Regions from separate parts of the Homo sapiens genome. Here region 1 is linked to region 2. Evidence: fine-mapped expression QTL. A gene starts in region 2. The other region holds a variant in brackets. All regions are shown on one strand. Distances are from middle to middle. Region 1 overlaps PAFAH2 (platelet activating factor acetylhydrolase 2). Region 2 holds the start of STMN1 (stathmin 1).

What was found. PIP is the estimated chance that this variant, and not a neighbour inherited with it, causes the effect. A credible set is the group of variants that fine-mapping cannot tell apart.
Region 1: its variant is the best candidate, but not a certain one, in a credible set for the expression of STMN1 in whole blood (INTERVAL, PIP 0.60).

What each region holds. Positions count from the first base shown.
Region 1 is chr1:25,986,052-25,991,426 of GRCh38, forward strand. PAFAH2 (platelet activating factor acetylhydrolase 2) reads right to left here. Exons shown (of 11, transcript NM_000437.4): 2 at 4,676-4,812; 3 at 3,397-3,550; 4 at 2,180-2,276. The coding sequence starts at 4,765. Among named protein-coding and RNA genes, the nearest start is that of PAFAH2, 9.3 kb to the right of the region's middle. The variant T/C (reference allele first, on the strand shown) is at 2,595.
Region 2 is chr1:25,903,596-25,908,970 of GRCh38, forward strand. STMN1 (stathmin 1) reads right to left here and starts at 2,824. Exons shown (of 5, transcript NM_005563.4): 1 at 2,794-2,824; 2 at 1,069-1,143; 3 at 46-218. The coding sequence starts at 1,081. MIR3917 (microRNA 3917) reads right to left here and starts at 2,859; the gene lies at 2,767-2,859. LOC105376885 (a long non-coding RNA gene) reads left to right here and starts at 2,955. Exons shown (of 2, transcript XR_947102.1): 1 at 2,955-3,051; 2 at 3,441-4,648. RefSeq lists silencers at 1,763-2,057, 1,837-2,256, 2,647-2,736, 2,757-3,066.

The DNA of each region.
Region 1 (5,375 bases), 82 kb after region 2:
CTGCCTTCAGAAGGCTTACAATCTAGTGAAGAAGACAGGCATTAAAGAATAATTACACAAGTAATTAATTCATTACAATTATGTTAAATGCTGAGAAGTATAGATTGTCTTATGAAAGCACATTCTGGAAAAATTAACCTAATATAATATAGGTGTCAAGATGGGTGTCCCTAGGACAATGACATCCAAACTAAGATCTTAAAGGTAATCTGGAATTAGCAGGAAAAGACGGAGAGGGGCAAGAGGAAGAGAAGAGCAGAACGGTGAATAGTCCAGGCAAAAAGATCAGCCACAAAGCATAGCACAGATGAAGACAGCGAGGGAGGAAATAACCCAGTGCCTTTCAGTAAGTGAAAGAAGGCCATTTTGTCTGGAGAGCTACACTGGGGCAAATAGCAAGGAACAGGCCTAGAAACTTTGTCTTGGACCTGCATTGAGGTAAGACCATGAAAAGAACTGAATTAGGTTCAAAGAGCTATTAAATTTTTTTTTTCTGAGATGCAGTTTTGTTCTTGTTGCCAAGGCTGGAGTGCAATGGCACAATCTTGGCTCACTGCAACCTCCACCTCCCAGGTTCAAGCAATTCTCCTACCTCAGCCTCCCAAGTAGCTGGGATTACAGGCATGCACCACCACACCTGGCTAATTTCTTGTATTTTTAGTAGAGACAGGGTTTCTCCATGTTGGTCAGGCTAGTCTCGAACTCCCAACCTCAGGTGATCCACCCACCTCGGCCTCCCAAAATGCTGGGATTACAGGCGTGAGCCACCGCGCTCGGCCAAAAATTTTTAAGTGGGAAAAAACATTCATTCATTCACTCAACAAATATTTATTGAGTACCTATTATATGCTGGGCACTGCTTTGAGTGCTGGAATGACAAGATCATATTTCGTTTTAAAATAGATCTCCCTGACAGGCGCGGTGGCTCATGCCTGTAATCCTAGCACTTTGGGAGGCTGAGGCAGGTGGATTGCCTGAGGTCAAGAGTTTAAGACCAGGCTGGCTAACATGGTGAAGCCCTGTCTCTACAAAAATTAGCTGGACATGGTGTTGGGTGCCTGTAATCCCAGCTACTTGGAGGCTGAGGCAGAAGAATCGCTTGAACCCGGAAGGCAAAGGTTGCAGTGAGCCGAGATCACGCCACTGCACTCCAGCCTGGGCGACTGATCGAGACTCTGTCTCAGAAAAAATAAAATAAAATAAAATAAAATAAAATAAAATAAAATAAAATAAAATAAAATAAAAAGATCTCCATGGCTACAATGTGGACAATGGTTTGGGGGCTGAGAGGCAAAAACAGATGCCTTTGAGATGTGCAACATTCTGGGACCTAAACTAGACATATATGTTGATGAACAGACAGAGAGAACATTCACAAGCTTAAATAAGAACACATGGGGCCGGGCGCAGTGGCTCACGCCTGTAATCCCAGCACTTTGGGAGGCCGAGGCTGCTGGCTCCACAAGTGCAGGGAGCAAGTCTCTTATTCGCTACTACGCCAATGCCACACACAGAGTGAACCCTCATGTTAAATAAATGACTCTTGGTGGGGCACAATGGCTCATGCCTATAATCTCAGCACTTTTGGAAGGCTAGAACGGGAGGATGGCTTGAGCTCAGGAATTCAAGATCAGCATGGGCAACACAGTGAGATCTCGTCCCTGAAAAAAAAAAAAAAAATTTAAAAATAGCCAGGCGTGGTGGTACGTGCCAGCTACTTGGTGGCTGAGGCAGGAGCACTGCTTGAGCCCAAGAGGTTGAGGCTGCAGTGAGCTGTGATCACACCACTGCACTCCAGCCTGGGCAACAGAATGAGACCCTGTCTGAAAAAAATAAAAATAAAATAGATAAATAAATGATGCTCTGATCACAAAGCTCATGCTCCTTCTAGCATTTCTGGGCTATCACATAGGAGGAAAGCTAAAAGTGTTTATTTATATAAATGCTGGACCATGAGAAGTAAAGCATATAAAGGCTGCTGAAAGGCTCCACAAGGTGAAAAGGACTTGAAAAAGGCCTTCTGGGGAAGGTGAACCCAATGCTATGGGACGAAGCAGATGGGAGATAAGACAGCTAGCAGATGGAAATGTCTTTTTTTTGCCCTTTGAGAATAAGCTAAGACTCAGCAGCTGTCACCAGGCAAGGAGTATGGCAAGGTCTGGGGGAAAGAAGCTCTTACCTGAAGGCTCCTAGGCCATGGGAGAAGATGATCAAGGGGTATCCAGAGTCCTTTGTCTTAAAGGGGCCATTCCAGCTAACAGGCAGGCGACAAGATCCTAGCAGAGACATGGGCTATAGAATATCTGGCTGCCCCAAAGCTGTTATCCCAAGGGCAGCCTGAGTATAGGTATGGGTGGGGACATGTGTTTCTCCCCTCTGGAGAACCACCATCGGCCCCTGAGCAGCTCAGGGCAGTTAATCACCTATTTCTTCTCCCTTTCTTCCCTAGGAAGAGTGAACACAACAGAAAATGGGAAGCTAAGCCAGGCGCAGTGGCTCACGCCTGTATTCCCAGCACTTTGGCAGGCCAAGGAGGGCGGATCACGAGGTCAAGAGACCAGCCTGGCCAAGTGAAACCCCGTCTCTACTAAAAA[T/C]ACAAAAATTAGCTGGGCGTGGTGGCGGGCTCCTATAATCCCAGCTACTCAGGAGGCTGAGGCAGGAGAATCACTTGCACCCTGGAGGCGAAGGTTGCAGTGAGCTGAGATTGTGCCATTGCACTCCAGCCTGGGCAACAAGAGCAAGACTCCATCTCACCAAAAAAAAAAAAAAAAAAAAAAAAAAAGGAAAAGAAAATGGGAAGCTAAGTCCAAAGTGGCAGTACTGAACCCGGGGTAAACTGCTGAGATGCCAAGGCACTGGGTGGAATTCCTAGGTGTGGGACCTTTGGGGGAAGTGGATGACTCAATGTTACCCTACTCAGAAGAGGGGTGACTGGAGGGAAAACTGCAGGAAACTGTACGCTCCTTGACAGTTAAGAATCTTTCTTTGATACACACAATAGCTGGCACAGAGTAGGAATTAATACATGCTAAACAAAGGAGCAATCAGTGCCATTTATGGAACACATTATATGTCCCAAGCACCGCATTAGAGGCTTTACGTACATCCCGTACTACAAACCCCCAAAGACATGTATTTAGACAGGTTCAGTAACTTGCCCAAACCCCATGGCTAGTAACTTATAAAGTCTGGATTTGAATCCAGGAAAGTCTAACTCAGTCACCAAAGCTCTTTCATATGTAATTCTCTCCCAACTCTCCATACCACACTGGCTAATGGATGCCCCTTACAAAAGCCTGGACACTGCAGGCTATAAGGTACTGCGTCCACCTGGGGATCTCCCAGGAACATAACCAAGCAACTGGGAAAGCATGCAGAGGTCAGGCCAGCCCTTACCCACCGCCAGGTTGAACAGCAAGCCCCCGCAGCGCTTATTAAACTGCAGGTACTCGGCCAGGCCAGTGCAGTACTCATAGCGGGGAATCCACAGGGGCTGCTCCATGGTCTCCTCTGCCTTTTGGCAGGGGTAGAAGAGTCGAAAGAAGCTCCCCTGTAGGAAAGAAGAGAGCAGCTGCTCAGAGCAAGGAGCCCAGGCTAGATTTCCCAACAGCCACACTCAGCAGGTGTTTGGGGCACCAGCAAAACAGGGCACCAAAACAGGGAAACTGAAGTTTCAATTAGCATGCCTGAATTTCACATTCAGAAATCTGGAAAGAAGCAATTTGATTTTTAGCATATATGTAAAGCTTACGTTATTTCAAATAGCCAACTGTATTTTGAATTACATTGTGGGAGGGGGCACCAAAAATATTTGAGTGCTTGGGACAATGAAAGATTTAAATCTGGCCCTGAACCTAGGCCTAGAGGAGCCCCAGGAGTTAGAGATTAGTTCTCGTGCTGAACAGGGTGGCCTTGGTAGCTCATCCAGGCCACTCTGCTCTAGGACAGCCCCTGGGAAGCAACAGCACACTCATTTTACATGGGAGTAGGTGAGGGGTTACTAGGAAGTGTGTGCCTCTCAAGGGAGACAGGAAGTCCAAGGGCTAGCAGAGAAAGACCTAGGAACTAAGCCAGGCACAGTGGCTCATGCCTGTAATCCCAGCACTTTGGGAAGCCGAGGTAGGAGAGTCGCTTGAGGCCAGGAGTTAGACATCAGCCTGGGCAACATAGCAAGGCCTCGTCTCTACTATATATACATATATATAAGATAGAGGACCAGTCCAGAAGTCAAAGCAGGAGGGGAAAACAGATCAAGGCAGGAGAGAGAAAAGGAAGCTGTCCCCCTACCCAGGTCAGGGAGTCCAAGGCCAAAGGCACACGCCCATGGCTCTTTCTCTCACACACTCAGATTATGATACGATTAAAACCCTTCCAAGATCAGGCATCTGCCCTCAAGAAAGGTGAGAGGATCTGCGAGCTGCCTCTAAAGCTAGAGTCCCCCCTTTCCTCCTAGGTGGAAAATGAACGCATTATCTCTGTCTATTGGGATGTTTCTAATGTTTGGAAAGAGGAAGAAAAAGCTCAGGAAGACAGACCTGGGGGCTTGATAACCAAATCCAGACCCGCTCTAATTCATTTTCCCCACCGTGGGAATACAGGATCAGACTTGTGATCAGTAAGTCACGGTGCCGGCAGAAGCAGTGCAAACAGAAGAAAGGGAGCTGGGGACACTTACCTGGAGATTCTGACCCTCCATCACATCCCCACAGCCTACGAGGTGGGGTCCTGTGACAGGTGGAAAGCCCACAGACTGGTTGACCCCCATTTCATCACCGGGTGAATCAAATGACTTGCCGGAGCTGAACTTGCTGGCTGGATGGGGGAACACAGAACAGCAGCCGCTTGCTGGTTTCCTCTCGGCTTCCTGTTGCTGAAATGTGTTATCTGTTACCCTGTCCACCCCTCCTTAGCACCTCATCCTCCCTGCCGTCGCTCATTAAATCTTGCACCTACTACTTTGCTACATTGCCTTTGCCAAGGTTGGGGGTTGTTTTTTATTTTGCTAGGGTGAGGAGATGGCTGGAAGACGAAAGAGAGCCATCCATACTCCTTACAGCCCATTAACGTATGTTTATCCAGCAGCTACTGCTGCAGAGACTGTCACACAGACCTTGCTCTCCTGAGGCTAATAGTAACCACTAAGATCCATTATTTACGGTTAGCACTGTACTGACCTCTTTATAGACACTATACACATTGCATCATTTCATTGTCTCAACCACTCTCTGAGGTAGGTACTTTTTTTTTTGAGACGGAGTCTCGCTCTGTTGCTAGGCTGGAGTGCAGTGGCATGATCTTGCTCGCTGCAACCTCCGACTCCCTGGTTCAAGCGATTCTCCTGCCTCAGCCTCCTGAGTAGCTGGGATTACAGGCAC
Region 2 (5,375 bases):
ATTACATAAATTAATATCCTGCTTTCTGTGAATTGCTTCGTTTACCTTGCGTCTTTCTTCTGCAGCTTCTAATTTCTTCTGAATTTCCTCCAGGGAAAGATCCTTCTTCTTTGGAGGGGAAAGGGGGAATTCTGGAACAGATTCTTTTGACCGAGGGCTGAGAATCAGCTCAAAAGCCTGGCCTGAGGCACGCTTCTCCAGTTCTTTCACCTGGATATCTAGAATTGATTATATTTATAATTCAGAAAACCAGGATTCTCCTGTTCTAATAAACTGTACTATAATTTTCTAAAACCCAAATCAATTTAATGTATTAAACTAGGGCTGATGAGGAAAGTTGTGTTTTTTTTCCCCTTTTTATTCCTATCAGTCTACTGACACTAGGGGAAGATGTATTTGCAGGCAAGATATTATTATCTAAATACCATTTCCCAAGGCCAGGTACCATGGCTCATGCCTATAATCCCAGCACCGTGGGAGGCCAACATGGGAAGATCCCTTGAGCCCTGAAGTTTGAGACCAGCCTGGGCAACAAAGGGAAAGCCCATCTCTACAAAAAAAATTTTTTTTGATTAGGTGGGTGTGGTGGCCCATGTCGATAGTCCCAGATGCTATGGAGGCTGAGGTGGGAGAATCGCTTGAGCCCACTTGAGCTCCAGAAGTCAAGGCTGCAATGAGCTATAATTAAGCCACTGCACTCCAGCCTGGGCAACAAGGTGAGACCCTGTCTCAAAAAAAATAAAAACCATCTCCCAGAAAAACAAAGCTCAACATTTTTGGATTAATAAATACTGTTTTGAGACATCAGTATCTGACAATCGCTTTCATAAACAAAAGACTTGTGCAAACTCCACAATTTTGCTTCAGACTAAGCCAAACTGTCCAATAAACAATTACGAGCTCTCGGCACATTCAAGTGATAATCATTTTTAAATTCTTCTCCTATTCATAAAATAGGTTTTGGTAAGACCAAAACATAAGTGCCAAATCAAAGGCGAAGACCTGAGCCATCTCAATCTAAAATCATAAGCCCATTACAATTTCAGATTTTCCAAATAGATTACCTACCAGAAGAAGCCATGGTGAATAGAAGACAAGCGACAGGCAGTGTATTCTGCACAATCAACTGGGATAAGGAAAGTCCTGAAAATGATTTTCAAAAACATGCAATCACTTTCTTTGCCTTTCTATATGTCATCAACCCAAAAAAATCTCACATCACATCTACATACATCGTCAGAAAAATACGTGGAATAAAGACGTCTAAATTAACCACGAAAAAAATTATCAAAATCTACTAAATAAACATTGGGAAATATGACCTGAATATGATATTGGTTCCAGAAAATCAAGTTAACTGAGCTTTCTCGGTCATAAAACTCTTGGATTTTTAAAATCAGACAAAGTCACAAGGGTGAAGAATTTTTCCCCCATAAACTCTTTAACATTTCACCGAAACTGTAAGAAGATATTCCAGATTCAACTCAACAGTGCCCCCGGAGCCATCTTAATACTGCCTACAACTCATTGTGCAAATGAAATACCCACCCCTGCTTTGTCTGTGTCTGACGTGGTGGATAAGAAAACGCCCAAGCTAATAGTAACCAATAATGTTGAACTCCTATTGTCCCTCAGGTTTAAGCTTCCTTGCCCAACAGCAAGCAAAATGTTTATGAACCTCTAGATTTTGACTTATATTTGCTGCCGTTATGTCATGAAAAATGCTGTATCTCTTGTTGATCTTTTTAACATTATGACTTTTGTAGACGCCAGCTAGTACCAAAAACGTAGGATGACAGGTTCCCAAAAGCTAGGAATTAAAATCAGAGGCAGCGACAAGATTTAAGAAAAGCAGAGAATTAGACGCAGCACCGGACCCAGGATGGGCGTGGCCCTGGTCCGGGCGAGGAAAAGAGGACCGGTCGCCCCCGGCCAATCAGAGCACGCCTTGCGCTCCGGCCCCTGGCCCCGCCCCCTTCCTCCCCGCGCCTTTTCGAATCTCCCCGAACTCAACACCCCGGAGCCCGCGCGCGTGGGAAGGGGAGGGGTGGGCGGGGCTAACGGTCCAATCCGGGTAACTCCGCCCCTGCCTGACTCCCCCTGCGCGGACGCCCCCCCCAACTCCCGCCAAAAACACCTCCAGGCCGCCGCCACCACCCCCTTCACAGTTCAGCGGGTGGGGCAGGCCCCGGGAACAGGCCCCCGGGTGGTCCCGCGGTGAGCTCGCCACCGCCTCCCGCCGTCCCCATGCCCAACCTGCCGCCACCCACGCTGTCCGCGCGTCCGGCCGCGAAGACAGAAGAACCCTCGTGGGGCCCGGGAGCGCCGCCCCTCAATCACCAGCTGCGGTCGCCAGGGGACGGTCGCAGGGAGGGTCGCGGCCCTGGCTGCCCGCAGTTTGGTCCTAAAGCCGCTGGTCCCTGGGGCACCGCCCCGTCCCTTCAGACAATGGGGAACCCGGCGGGGCCCGCAGGGAAGGGAGGGAGGGAGGGAGGTAAACGAGGGCCCACGCCCCCTATTGTCTCCTCGACGGCACCCCGGAGCGGACGCCCGGTGATCGCCCAGCCCCCTGCCCACGAACAGCCGCGCCCCCGGAGAGCGGGGACAAAGGCGAGGCTCCGCCCGAGCCACACACAAAGCGGAGCGACCCCCGCCCACCAACCCCTCCGAGGCCCGCAGCCCCGCCCGCCGCCCTGCAGCAGGGGGTCGCTGCCACGGCCCAGCCCCTCCCGCCGACCGCGTCCCTCTTGCTGGCCTCAGCCAGCCGCCGCCTCCTCCGAGCCCCGCACCCACCTGCTCAGTCCGAGCCGCCTGACCACACTCTGAGCACCAACAGACCCGGGCGCGCACAAAAGCGCCAAACAGAGGCACGTGACCTCCGCGCGGGGCTCCGCATTGGCCGAGAGCGGCGGCACGTGCCGCCCCCGCCCCCCACAACCCGCGTGGAGCGCCGCCCCCCGGGACCCCGAAGCACCTCGGGAAGTGTAGTCCTGTCCCGGAGGGCAGGAGGACAATGCCGGGGGTTGCAGGGCGCCTGGGGAGCATCCCCAGGTGTGGGCCTGGGACTAGGGGGGTGGTCTCGCCGTGGAAGAGGGCGTGGCAGTGGACCCCGGACTAGGTCCGAACCAGCTCCCCATTCTCGAGAACAAGGGCAGGGCGGAGCAGGCGGAGGGCGGGGGGGTCCTTCCCTACCTTTCCAAACTTTGGCCGCCTGGACTCCACCTTGTAGAGCCACATGCCCGCCTCGCCCCAAGGGCAGCACTCGGACAGAGCAGTGCCCCTTCTAGTGCGCCACCCACATGGGTGCCTAAGACGCCCGAGCCCCTGTGACAGCACAATGCCACTCCACGCCCCTGCAGGGCCCCCTGCCCCCGGCACCCTACACCGACACCGGCGTGTCACCCATATTGTGACATCATCGTAATTTCTAATCCACTCAGCCCACAGGTCGCGGGCGTGGCCCTTCCCTCACTGTGTGCGTTCTTGCCAGCATCCTCAGGTTCCCGAGCCGGTGACCAGGGACCTGTGCGGGAAAGCGTGGGGCTCTGGAATTTGATCGCCTTTGGTCTAACAAAGCCACTCAGCTTAAATGCAGACTCCATCTGTTCTTCCAAGCCTTCTGCGGATGATAGGGGAGGAAGAGCAATAGCCGTTCTAGACTACACAGATTGCAGTTAAGTGTTGCTTTTGTTCTCAGAGCACGTGCTCCCCAGAGCAGCACTGGGTTCTTTTTAAAAATCGAAAAAGGAGCCACAAGGTCACTGTTCTCCCTGACCTGGATAGCTCAGAACCTCAGCAAAGGCACAAAGGAAATTGGTCTGACCGTGCCTTAGAATAACTGGCCCTTTCTCTCACAAAAAGGGGAAAAAAATAAATGAAATGAACATGGTCCCCGCCTCCTCCCATTCTCTGACCAAGACCGTGTCCTCGGTTGGTGGTCAATACACCAAGACACCTGCTTTGAGATCTTGACTAAGCAGAAGAGATATCTTTATTTTATTAATGAGCTGCATCTCCCCAAATCAAGAAACAAATGTGACCAACCTTCCTGAAACAACAGTCCTAATTTAGAAAGACTCTCATGCCTAGTTAGTCACCAGGGATGTGCCAGAGATAAAATACAACTAAGGGGTGCCCAAGACAATAAAAACTGGATCATACAAGCAGCAGCACACTACACAAAGCAAACAATTAGCAATGCGCTGTTGCCTGAAATATGCTTGTTGCGGCATTTTTTCCAACAATCGCCCTTGTGTGGGGTCGGCCTCCCCCCCAAGCCAATCGAAGTGGTTTTCACTTAGCCTGTGAGCAGGACCAGGAATAATTCAGATACTGAGCCTTGAAAGGCTTCTTCTCAGACCAAACTTAGCTTCAAAATGGCTAGGTGCTTCCGTCTGTCATTTTTCTGAACAGAATCTCAGACATCATTAGAAAAGTTGGAGAAGGATGGGCATGAGACCCCTCAGGAAAGCGACAGATAGGCAGGCAACACAAATGAGCAAGGAACCCAAGCCCAAGAGGTCCTTACCCACTGAACAGGCTTTTTATCTTGAAGTCTTTGTATTTGATCTGGAGGTTCACAGAGGAAGGTCCCACTCATTTAATGCATTTTTTTAAGTACAATAAATTGCCACACAAAAGTCTCACATTCCTGACTATTAATGTTGTGACAGAAAAAAGAAATAAATCTTTCAAAACACTGATAATTTGAAAGCACTTACACTGCTTCCCCCCACATTTTCTTTCTCCCTAGAGCAGATGTCTATTTCCATGGAAACCATAGCAAGGAACGTAGATGTTAGAACTCATGTTCATTTTTAATCTTTTTTAGCAATGCCACTTGGCTTCTGGGTTTGTTGGGAGATGCCTGGTTCTGCCAGTCTGTGACAATGTTCCAAGCTCCTCACAGCTGCTTGAGGACTGAGAGGGCTGGGTTAAAGTTTCCCCTAGAATGAGCCTTTGAATAAAAAGGTGCTTTTGAGGTGGGATTCCTGTCCTTTTATTATTATTATTATTATTATTATTATTATTATTATTATTATTATTATTTGACTTAAAAAAAATTGAGACAGGGTCTCACTATGTTGCCCAGGTTGGCCTCGAACTCCTGGGTTCAAGCAATCCTCTTGTCTCAGCCTCCCAAAGTGCTGGGATTACAGGCATGAGCCACCACACCCAGTCTGATCCTTGTTCTTTAGGGTGGGGCTGCCTTCCCAAGAGCCAGATCACAGCTCATTATTGTCAGCTTTTGTGGGTGTCCTATATAAGCCTTGGAATAGGAAGGGCTTTCAACTGTAAGGAGAGACAACAGTTTTGCCACTTCACCTTGGAGAGGGGCAGAATCGCCCTTCTCGAAAGCTTCCTAAAACGAACTT